2 separate regions of the Homo sapiens genome follow, and region 1 is linked to region 2. The links come from fine-mapping of genetic effects on gene expression. A gene starts in region 2. The other region holds a variant in brackets. All regions are shown on one strand. Distances are between the middles of the regions. Region 1 overlaps PASK (PAS domain containing serine/threonine kinase). Region 2 holds the start of MTERF4 (mitochondrial transcription termination factor 4).

Evidence for each region. PIP is the estimated chance that this variant, and not a neighbour inherited with it, causes the effect. A credible set is the group of variants that fine-mapping cannot tell apart.
Region 1: its variant is the best candidate, but not a certain one, in a credible set for the expression of MTERF4 in whole blood (TOPMed, PIP 0.57).

The regions. Positions count from the first base shown.
Region 1 is chr2:241,129,731-241,134,967 of GRCh38, reverse strand. PASK (PAS domain containing serine/threonine kinase) reads left to right here. Exons shown (of 18, transcript NM_015148.4): 9 at 1,938-2,094. Among named protein-coding and RNA genes, the nearest start is that of PASK, 17 kb to the left of the region's middle. RefSeq lists an enhancer at 1,990-2,079. The variant A/T (reference allele first, on the strand shown) is at 3,284.
Region 2 is chr2:241,100,274-241,105,509 of GRCh38, reverse strand. MTERF4 (mitochondrial transcription termination factor 4) reads left to right here and starts at 3,223. Exons shown (of 4, transcript NM_182501.4): 1 at 3,223-3,257. The coding sequence starts at 3,237. RefSeq lists enhancers at 2,897-3,436, 3,437-3,976.

The DNA.
Region 1 (5,237 bases), 29 kb before region 2:
GTGGGGGTGCGCCCTGTCCCTGGCTCTGCCCTGGTGGGGACCCCGGAACTCTGCCTCCAGGGCCTCTGCCCACCTGGAGCGTGGGCTCACTGGGTGTGGTTCTGGAGTTCCTGGGGCAGGCTGGGGCCCAAGGGTCCAGGTGATGGTGTGGCAGGGGTGTCAGGTGGGGGGGTCTCTGTTCTATGGAAGGACACAGTGGGGGTGAGAGAGAGAGAGTGGCCAGTGCTGGCAGAAAGCACAGCCACCTCGGGGCTCTGCATCGTGGTGGGGCCAGGCGGGTCGGCAGGTGCTGGCTTGCGAGGTTGTCCTGCATGCGGTCACTCGGGTATCGAATGAGTGCGAAAGTGGATTTAATACAGTCACTGAGAAAAACTACAGCTTCACGAGACTGACCAGCCTGGTGAGATAAACATTTACCGTCAGACACTCTTTAGCTGTCTGGGCATTGTGTGAGTTCTTTGGCACATGCGCCCAGCCTCCTTCCCCACAGGGTCTCGCCTGGGGCATTAGAAGCTGGATTGTAACATTTGTTTTAAAAGATACTTTGTTAGGCTGTTGGTTCTCCTTACAATCCCGGCTTTCCTTAGCATGTGGTTCCCTTCATTGTATCTGGGTTTTTCTATCTCAGTCTGTCCTTTATACAAGCTTTTTCCTCTAGCACTAATTATATTCCCCTTCCCCTTTTTCCAGAATTCCAAATTCTGACCTGTGCATGCATGCCTGTGTTGAGTACATGCTGTTTGTCGGATATTTGGTGGTGGGGGGAGGGGATCACATTTCTGTTACTCTCGCATTGTTTCCTTAGGATGAATTCTTAGAAGTGGAACTTCTGGATTCAGGGAATGAACACGTTTGCTAGTTACTGTCAAAAATGCCTCTTGGAGAAGTTATGCCGAACCACCCAACTGTCCTGGTCACAGAGCAGGCTTCTCTCGGCTTGGGGCTAGGGTTCTTTCTGGGGTCGTCCTTTTTTTTTTTTTTTTTTGAGACAGAGTTTCGCTCTTGTTGCTGAGGCTGGAGTGCAGTGGCACCATCTCGTCTCACTGCAACCTCTGCCTCCTGGGTTCAGGTGATTCTCCTGTCCCAGCCTTCCGAGTAGCTGGGATTACAGGGATGTAGCACCATGCCTGGCTAATTTTGTGTTTTTAGTGGAGACGGGGTTTCTCCATGTTGGTCAGGCTGGTCTCGAACTCCCAGCCTCAGGTGATCTGCCCGCCTCGGTCTCCCAAAGTGCTGGGATTACAGGTGTGAGCCACTGTGCGTGGCCTCCCAGGGTCCTTCCTAATGCAGGCTGCTTTCTCTCATGTAACCAAGAGACATACATTCATCCCCTACCACGTGCCAGGCTGCACTGCGTGCAGATGCCCCTGCGCTCACGGGGACTGGAGGGAGCCAGGTGACATGGAGCCCAGGAAGTGGCCAGAGCTCGGGAGGAAGGCAAAGAGGGGAAGAGGGCATGCAGTCTTAGGCTTGGGGTCCCAGGAGGCCTAGGGAAGCCTTGTAGATACCCAGGTACAGCATTTCTGGGATCAGGAGCCATGATCCCAAGGCCTCTAATACTTCAGATATGGCAGGGAGGCCAGGTGGAGAGACCTGGAGGAGTGAGGCCACAGAGTTGGGGGGCCATGGCCGAGACTTCGGCTTCTATCCAGAGTCAGATGGGAGCTGTTGGAGGGTTGTCAGCAGGTGAGTGCCGTGCTCTGACTTGGGTGTTAATAGGATCATGGTAGCTGGCTGCAGGTGTCCTGGGCCAAGGAGCAGGGAGACAGGAGGCAGAGAAGAGGGCGCTGGGTTGGACCTGGGACGCCTGGGGTGGTGAGAGGTGGTCGATGCTGGTCATGCTGTGAAGCAGTCTCAGTGAGTTCCAGGCGAATGAGCAGATTCGTTTTAGGGAGTGCCTGTGAAGAGCAAACGCTCTTTTTTGGTGTTGCTGCCAGATCCAAGGATTAATGTCGTGCTTGCTGGTGGCCACGTTGTGCCCCGAGATGAGATCCGGAAGCTGATGGAAAGCCAAGACATCTTCACCGGGACTCAGACTGAGCTGATTGCTGGAGGCCAGCTCCTTTCCTGCCTCTCACCTCAGCCTGCTCCAGGGTAAGTCCCTTGGTGGGAGGTTGCAGGTTTACTAAAAGTCCAGACAGATGGTAGGTGAATGAGGAACAAGTCAGAGAGAAATGTTCAGCCTATTATTCATAGTAACATTGAAAACTCACATGTGTTGAGCACCTGCTCTCTTCCACACACACTGACTGCTGGGTTTTCTGTGCTGCCTGGCTGAGTCCTTATCAGCCTGTATGGGAGGGCACCATGGTGTTACTGTCTCACTGTAGGGATAAGGAAACAGGCTGTGGAGAGTTCCAGAATGTTGAGGTAGATTTCAGAGAACTGATGGAATCATAATTTTATCATTTTCTTTTTTTTTTTTTTTTTTTTTTTTTTTAGACAGAGTCTCGCTGTGTCACCCAGGCTGGAGTGCAGTGGTGCGATCTCAGCTCATTGCTCATTGCATTGCAAGCTCCGCCTCCCGGGTTCACACCATTCTCCTGCCTCAGCCTCCCGAGTAGCTGGGGACTACAGGCGCCCGCCACCACGCCCGGTTACTTTTTTGTATTTTTTTTAGTTTCACCATGTTGGCCAGGATGGTCTCGATTTCCTGACTTTGTTATCCACCCGCCTTGGCCTCCCAAAGTGCTGGGATTAATTTTATCATTTTCAAAGTCATATGAAGCTGTTCTCTTTGCACATTTTAAAATATTCTATTTAGAGTAAAGAAAGTTTATATTAGAGAATTAGGAACATTTGGAAAAGTAGAAATAAAAACTTGTTCTATTCTCATAGTCGTATTGTACATAGCACGTGTGTGTGTATTTTTAACCCATTTTCTTCTTCGGAATCTTTTTTTTTTTTTTTTTTTTGAGATGGAGTCTCACTCAGCTGCCCAGGCTAGAGTGCAGTGGCGTGATCTTGGTTCACTGTAACTTCTGCCCCCTGGTTCAAGTGATTCTCCTGCCTCAGCCTCCTGAGTAGCTGAGACTACAGGCACCTGCCACCACGCCCGGCTAATTTTTGTATTTTTACTAGAGGCGGGGTTTCACTATGTTGGCCAGACTGGTCTCGATCCCTTGACCTCATGGTCCACCCGCCTTGGCCTCCCAAAGTCCTGGGATTACAGGTGTGAGCCACCATACCTGACCCAGAATCTTTTCTTATGCACAGCATGCAGTAAAGGTGCCCAAACTGTAGGTGCCCAGGTGGCCCAGGACCCTTTCTTGGCTGCCTGCAG[A/T]CCCTGGGTCCCTTCCTGCACTGTGCCCCCTACACCCTGCTGCCCTGGGTCAGGGCAGAGGTTAGACTGCCTGCCGTTGAGCCTGACGCATGCATTTCCTTCTGTCTGCCTTCTGCTTATTGCTGTGTCTGTGATATTTATCCACATAGTTGTGTTTTCTAGTCTTGAAATTATTTAAAAAATATGTAATAGATACATATAAAGTATGTATGTATGTTTAAAAATATGTAATGCATGGGCCAGGCGCGGTGGATCACGCCTATAATCCCAGCACTTTGGGAGGCTGAAGTGGGTGGATCATGAGGTCGGCAGATGGAGACCATCCTGGCTAACACGGTGCAACCCCGTCTCTACTAAAAATACAAAAAATTAGCCAGGCATGGTGGCGGGCGCCTGTAGTCCCAGCTACTCGGGAGGCTGAGGCAGGAGAATGGTGTGAACCTGGGAGGCGGAGCTTGCAGTGAGCCTAGATCGCGCCACTGCACTCCAGCCTGGGCGACAGAGTGAGACTCCGTCTCAAAAAAAAAAAAAAAATGTAATACATGCATATGTGTTTTTTTAATTATAGAAGAATAATGGTAAAAGCAATAGTTCCCCTGGCCGTCTTCCAATCCCCCTCCTCCAATCCTACTCTTTCCCCCAGGGGACCGCAGTCAGCAGTTAGAGCCTTCCAGGCCTTCTTTCTTGTGCATTTAACTATAGTTGTATATTATACTTCTATGTGTGCATGTGCATATGTGTGCTCACATGTAACTGCTTCTGTTCCCTGAGCACGGCTGGGATTATACCATACACAGTGTCCTAAATGTGTGTGTATGTGTACGCACACACATGTCCTGCAGATCTTCCTCTACAGGCCTCCTCGGAACCGAAGCCTCCTGGATGGCACCCTAGCTCATGGGCCACTTTCCCACTGGCCGATGTGCCGGTGCTTTCTCTTGTTTGCTTAGCCTCCCTGATTTTCCCTTTGCCACTGTGGGTCCGCGTTGAGTGGCGTGAGAGGGTAGCTGTTGGCTCTATTTGCTCTACTTCCACTGCGAGTGGAACAGAGCAGGCGCTCAACACGTGAGTTTTCAATATTACTATGAATAATATTGCTGTGCGCACCTCTCCAGAGGTGCCACCAAGCTGAAGTGGGGCGGCCGTGGTTGAGGGCCCAAGTCTGACCCGTGGGTGCTCAACAGCACTAGCGGCCGGGCCCCCTTGCCAGTGCTCCCGTTGTCTGGGACATCTTGGTGGACAGAGGCCACGTGGCCCGTTGCTATCCTCAGGACCTTGGACACAACTCATCTTCCAGGACTTGGTGGTACCAAGGGAGTTGCCCAAGATCAGCCAATTCCTAGTCTTTCTATTGCATTGGACGTTTCTGGATGTCACAGTTCTGAGAGTTTGATTAGCATCCACTGCACAGCTAGTGCAGTTATGACTATAGAGATTTATCCATTCATTCCCCGCTCAGTCATTCACTCACTCGTTCGCTTATTCAACAAATAAGCATTACAGAAGACTTGGGGTGTGTCCCTAAGAATTGTAGTCTGGTCAGGACAATAAGCTGAAACAGTAAGACAGAACAGGGTTAGGAAGCATGAAGGAAGGAGGTGAGCTGTACGGAGTGCTTTTGTGTTTTAGGGACTACGTTGGGTGCTTCCTCGTAAGTTGTCTCCTTTAGTTCTCCTGGTAATCCTGGGAGTGTAGTCTGATTTTTAGCAAATGGATGCTGAAGCTGAGTGAATTGTTACACTGGGCATCAGGTCCTCGAAGAGACCCCAGGTGATGTGCTCAGACAGCAGGTGGGGGTCTCGGGTCTCCACGGGGGTCAGGTCCTGGTGCTTCCCCACTGGAGGACCTACGGTCCCTGGGGCTGCCCTGGGTTGAGGTCCCAGCAGCTCAAGGCCTGTGTGCAGTCGGCAGATCACATCCTTCATGCCCTGACTGCATGCTGGCCAGAACTGAG
Region 2 (5,236 bases):
AAAAAAACCAAAAACCTAAACCCCTACCCTTTTCCCACATGTCATCACTTGCAGACGGTTTTTCCACATTCTGAGACTCCTGCCCAGAACCCTCTGGAAGCTGCCTGGGAGCCAGGCTGCCTCCTGCGTGGTTCTGAGCTATTTCTAGTGGTTATTTAGGAGGCACTCAACTGTTTTGGGATGATCAGAGTTAATTTTAGTCCCATCTAGTAGGATATGGGCTATTGCCATCCCTTTCTTCAGAAAGTGCTGCCTGAGCCTCGCTGCCACCACAAGTGACTGATGGAGTTGGTGGGGGAGGACCCTCCTCTATCAGGGACATTCAAGGTACAAGGGTTTTACAGGTGTGTATTAAAGTCAGTGATGTTCACTCTTCAGAATTCAAAGAGTTTTCTGATGTTTTAAGAACCCCTACCTTGTAGTGTTTATGGTGCTTATAACACAGAGGATGTTATAGAATGGTGTTTGTTTGTTTGTTTATTTATTTAGAGACAGAGTCTTATACTGTCGCCTGGGCTGGAGTGCAATGGTGCGATCTCAGCTCACTGCAACCTCCGCCTCCCAGGTTCAAGCAATTCTGCCTCAGCCTCCCAAGTAGCTGGGATTACAGGTGCCCACCACCACGCCTGGCTAAATTTTTGTATTTTTAGTAGAGACGAGGTTTCACTATGTTGGCCAGGCTGGTCTCAAACTCCTGACCTCATGATCCGCCCGCCTCGGCCTCCCAAAATGTTGGGATTACAGGCATGAGCCACTGCGTTCGGCCACAATGGTGTTTGCAGACAGGTGTTTAATGGGTTGAGAATGCATAGTCTGAGCTTTCTAAGAACTGTTACTTCTTTATAAGAAAAAATAATTAAAGCTCATCTGACTTCATGGCAGTGGAAGGTCTGGTATTTTGCAAACGTTCTTTGCAGAAAGAACCCAGAGAGGAAAGTTCTGAGGCTGAGGCTGACAATTTTTCCACTCCATTTTTTTTTTTTTTTTTAAGATGGAATCTTGCTCTGTCACCCAGGCTGGAGTGCAATGGTGCAATCTCGGCTCACTGCAACCTCCGTTCCCTGGGTTCAAGCAATTCTCCTGCCTCAGCCTCCCGAGTAGCTGGGATTACAAGTGTGCGTTATCACGTTACCTGGCTAATTTTTGTATTTTTAGTAGAGGCAGGGTTTCACTATATTGGCCAGGCTGGTCTCGAACTCCTGACCTCAGGTGATCCACCCATCTCAGCCTCTCAAAGTGCTGGGATTACAAGCATGAGCCACCGTGCCCAACCCACTGCATATTTTTAAAGTATGGTTCGAGAGAGCAAAGTTTTCACACAAGACTGAAGGTGATGTCAAATTTTTTTTTTTTTTTTTTGAGAAGTACTTTCGCTTTTGTTGCCCAGGCTGCAGTACAATGGCGTGATCTTGGCTCACTGCAACCTCCGCCTCCCAGGTTCAAGTGATTCTCCTGCCTCAGCCTCCTGAGTAGCTGACACTACAGGTGCCCACCACCATGCCTGGCTAATTTTTGTATTTTTAGTAGAGATGGGGTTTCACCATGTTTTCCAGGCTGGTCTCAAACCCCTGACCTCAGGTGATCTGCCCACCTCGGCCTCCCAAAGTGCTGGGATTACAGGCGTGAGCCACCACACCCGGGCTCATGTCAATTTTTCATAGTAATCCCCATGTCCCAGCTGTCATTTTATTTCTAGAGCTAGACAAACTGTTCAGGTTCCTTGATTCTTTCCAGGGAGTTGGGGTGGCTCATGGGATTTTCTTAGGCTTTTGGTGTAGCATTAACACAATTTATTGTGAGATGTTGACAGTTGAGTATTTTGAGAAGAAAATTACATTATAAAAAACAACAAAGGCAACCAATTTTTTTTTTCCTTTTGTTTTTTGAGACAAGGTCTTGCTCTGTTACGCAGGCTGGAGTGCAGTGGTGCAATCATGGCTCACTGCAGCCTCAACCTCCTGGACTCAAGTGATCCTCCCACTTCAGGCTCCTGAGTAGCTGGGACTACAGGTGCACGCCACTACTCCCGGCTAATTTTTTATTTTTTGTAGAGACAGGATTTTCCTATGTTGCTCAGGTTGGTCTTGAACTCCTGAGCCCAGGCAATCCCCCCCACCTCAGCCTCTCACAGTGCTGGGATTACAGGCGTGGGCCACTGCACTCTGCCAAAGCAACCAATTCTTTAGTTTCTACACGGATTAGAACCTTCCTTTTCTTTGACATAATCCTTTTGTCAAAAGACAGTTTTACATAAATTGTTTGGCACCCCACTCCATGCCTGGCGCAAAGCAGATATGTAAATGTGTGCCCATGCAAGAATCAAATCCTTTATGTCAGTCCAGAATGAAGTAGATAAAACAAGAAATGCTTATAAATTAAGGCTTTGGTGGCAGGATTTAGGCAGCTGAGAAAGCACACCTTTTTATTCTTCACAAGCATCACCTTGTGAAAGATGCCTACGCTCTTAGGTCGAGAGAGGAAATTTAAGAATGAATACACATTGGGCTAAAACTTTACTATATTTCATCCTAAGAGGGAACCAGACCTCGAAGTTGGGAAGGCTCTTGCTTATAAAGGGAAATGTGCCGTAATTCCTGTCATTTTACTTGGGTCTTTTAAAAACGGCAAATTCTCATCTTCCACTGGCTGAGAGTAAAAAGAAAGAAAAGCGGTAAAGACTTCTTTTTGTGCGTAGGTGGCCCCGGTGTTCACGCTGAATACAGATTTTTACACAATAAAATCTTAAATATCTCTACATGGAACGGAATCCATTTTTCCTGCCTCGGGAAGGATTTCTGCGCTCTCGGGTGAAGTTCCCGAAGCAAGGAACCAGTTCCCCTCTACCTGTACTCTTGAGAGGAATTCTCAGGTCATCTGAAACACAAGTATGGGCCAGGACGACCCATTCGTTCACGCGGCCCAGAGCTCTGCGAAACGGGACACGGCAGTGCAACGGGAACAACCGGACACCGAGGCCCCCGAAGGCTGAGGCCGCGGCAGAGGCGGCGGCACGGTGACGGGCGCGACTCCGGCCTTCCGGCTTTCTAAGGGGCGGCCCCGGGACACCTGAGCCCCGCGGGGCCGTGAACGCTCAGCACAGCTCCGGGCCGGAATCACGATCCACCACACCGCGCTGGCGCTGGGAACGGCGTCGGTGACGGACCGGGGGCCGGAAGTGAAGGACGGGGGAGGACCGCTGCTTCCGGCGCCGTAACTGCTGCCATCTTCTCCGCGCTATGGCTGCGTTCGGCCGTCAGGTAAGCTCGAGCTGGGCGCGCGGGCTTCTCCGGGTCGCAGGCGGGCGGGCAGCGACGCAGAGGAACCGCGGCCGCCGAGTGTTTCACGGCCAGGTCGTGGAGCCCTCCCGGAGGTCCGTGCACGCTGACCTGGTTTTGGCATCCTGGACCCGTGGCTCTGCTCAATTATTGTGGGATATAGAGTTGACATTTTTTTTTTTTGAGACAAAGTCTCGCTCTGTCTCCAGGCTGGAGTGCAATGGCGCGATCTCGGCTCACTGCAACCTCCGCCTCCCGGGTTCAAGCAATTCTACTGCTTCAGCCTCCCAAGTAGCTGGGATTACAGGCGCCCGCCACCATGCCTGGCTAATTTTTGTATTTTTAGTAGAGACGGGGTTTCACCGTGTTGGCCAGTCTGGTCTGTAACTTCTGGCCTCAGGTGATCCACCCGCCTCGAACTCCCAAAGTGCTGGGATTACAGGCGTGAGCCACCGCGCCCGGCCTGAGTTGACTGTTGAACAAGAGTTTGAACTTCACAAGGAAGATAACATGTACTTTTCATTAAGAGGAAGCGGAATCAGCATAGAGGTCTTTAGGCTTGAGCCCAGTTCCACGGGCCGCGCCCGCTGACCCCAGCGACTGCCAGGTGTTCCTGGCGGAGGGAGCATCTGGACAGGGGAGGCTGGAGAGCAGCCAGAGCTTGGGCTTGGCAGGGTGGCCCCAGGGCGACAATCGATGACGCTGGAGAAGGGGTTGGGACCGATGTGAAGGTTTTAGAGCAGGGGTTCCCCAACCCCCGGTACCGTCCCTTGCCTATTAGGAACCAGGCTGCACAGCAGGAGGTGAGCGGCAAGTGAGCCAGCCAGACTGTATTTACAGCCGCTCCCTTCGCTGGCATTACCGCCTGAGCTCCGCCTCCTGTCAGACCAGCCGCCTTAGATTCTCACTGGAGCGCGAACCCTATTGTGAACTGCGCCTTTGAGGGGTCCAGGTTGCGCTCCTTATGAGAATCTGATGCCCGATGATCTGTCACTGTTTCCCATCAACCCCAGATGGCACCTCCTGGTTGTAGGAAAACAAGCTCAGGGCTCCCAGTGATTCTACATTATGGTGAGTTGTATAATTATTTCATCTTATATTACAACGTGAAAATAACAGAAATAAAGTGCACAACAAATGTAATATGCTTGAATCATCCTGAAACCCCTCACCAGTCTGTGGAAAAATTGTCTTCCATGAAGCCAGTCCCTGGTGCCAAAAACGTTGAAGACTGCTGGCTTAGAGTGCCTGGATGATTTGTGCATAGTTTGTTAAGCACCAGCCTGAACCACTGAAGACTTTTGAGGTCAACTGGAATTGTGTATGCAAGTTGACTAATTACTGTGACCCTTGAACAACACAGGGGTTAGGGGCACCAGACCGCCCCCACACCAGTTGAAAATCAGTGTATAACGTTTGACTCCTCCAAAACTCAACTACTAATAGCCTACTCATGACTGGAAGCCTTACCGACAACATAAACAGTTAACACATATCTTGTATATATATATATTGCATTCTGTATTCTTAAAGTAAGCTAGAGAAAAGAAAACGTTATTCAGAAAATCATAAGGGCAAAACCCCGTCTCTACAAAAAATACAAAAATTAGCAGGGTGTAGTGTGCACCTGTAGTCCCAGCTACTCAGAAGGCTGAGGTGGGAGGATTACCTCAGCCTGGGGAAGTCAAGGCTGCAGTGAGCCATGATTGCACCACTGCACTCCAGCCTGGGCAACAGAGTGAGACCCCCGTCTCAAAAAACAAAAAGAAAATCCTAAGAGAAAATGTATTTACTATTCATTAAGAGGAAGTAGATCCTCATAAGGTCTTTAGGCTGAAGAGGAGGTGAAGGAGAGTTTGGTCTTGGTGTCTCAAGGGTGGCAGAGGCGGAAGAAAATCCACATATAAGTGGATCCAAGCAGTTCAAACCCTTGTTGTTCAAGGGCCAACTCTGTATCCCAC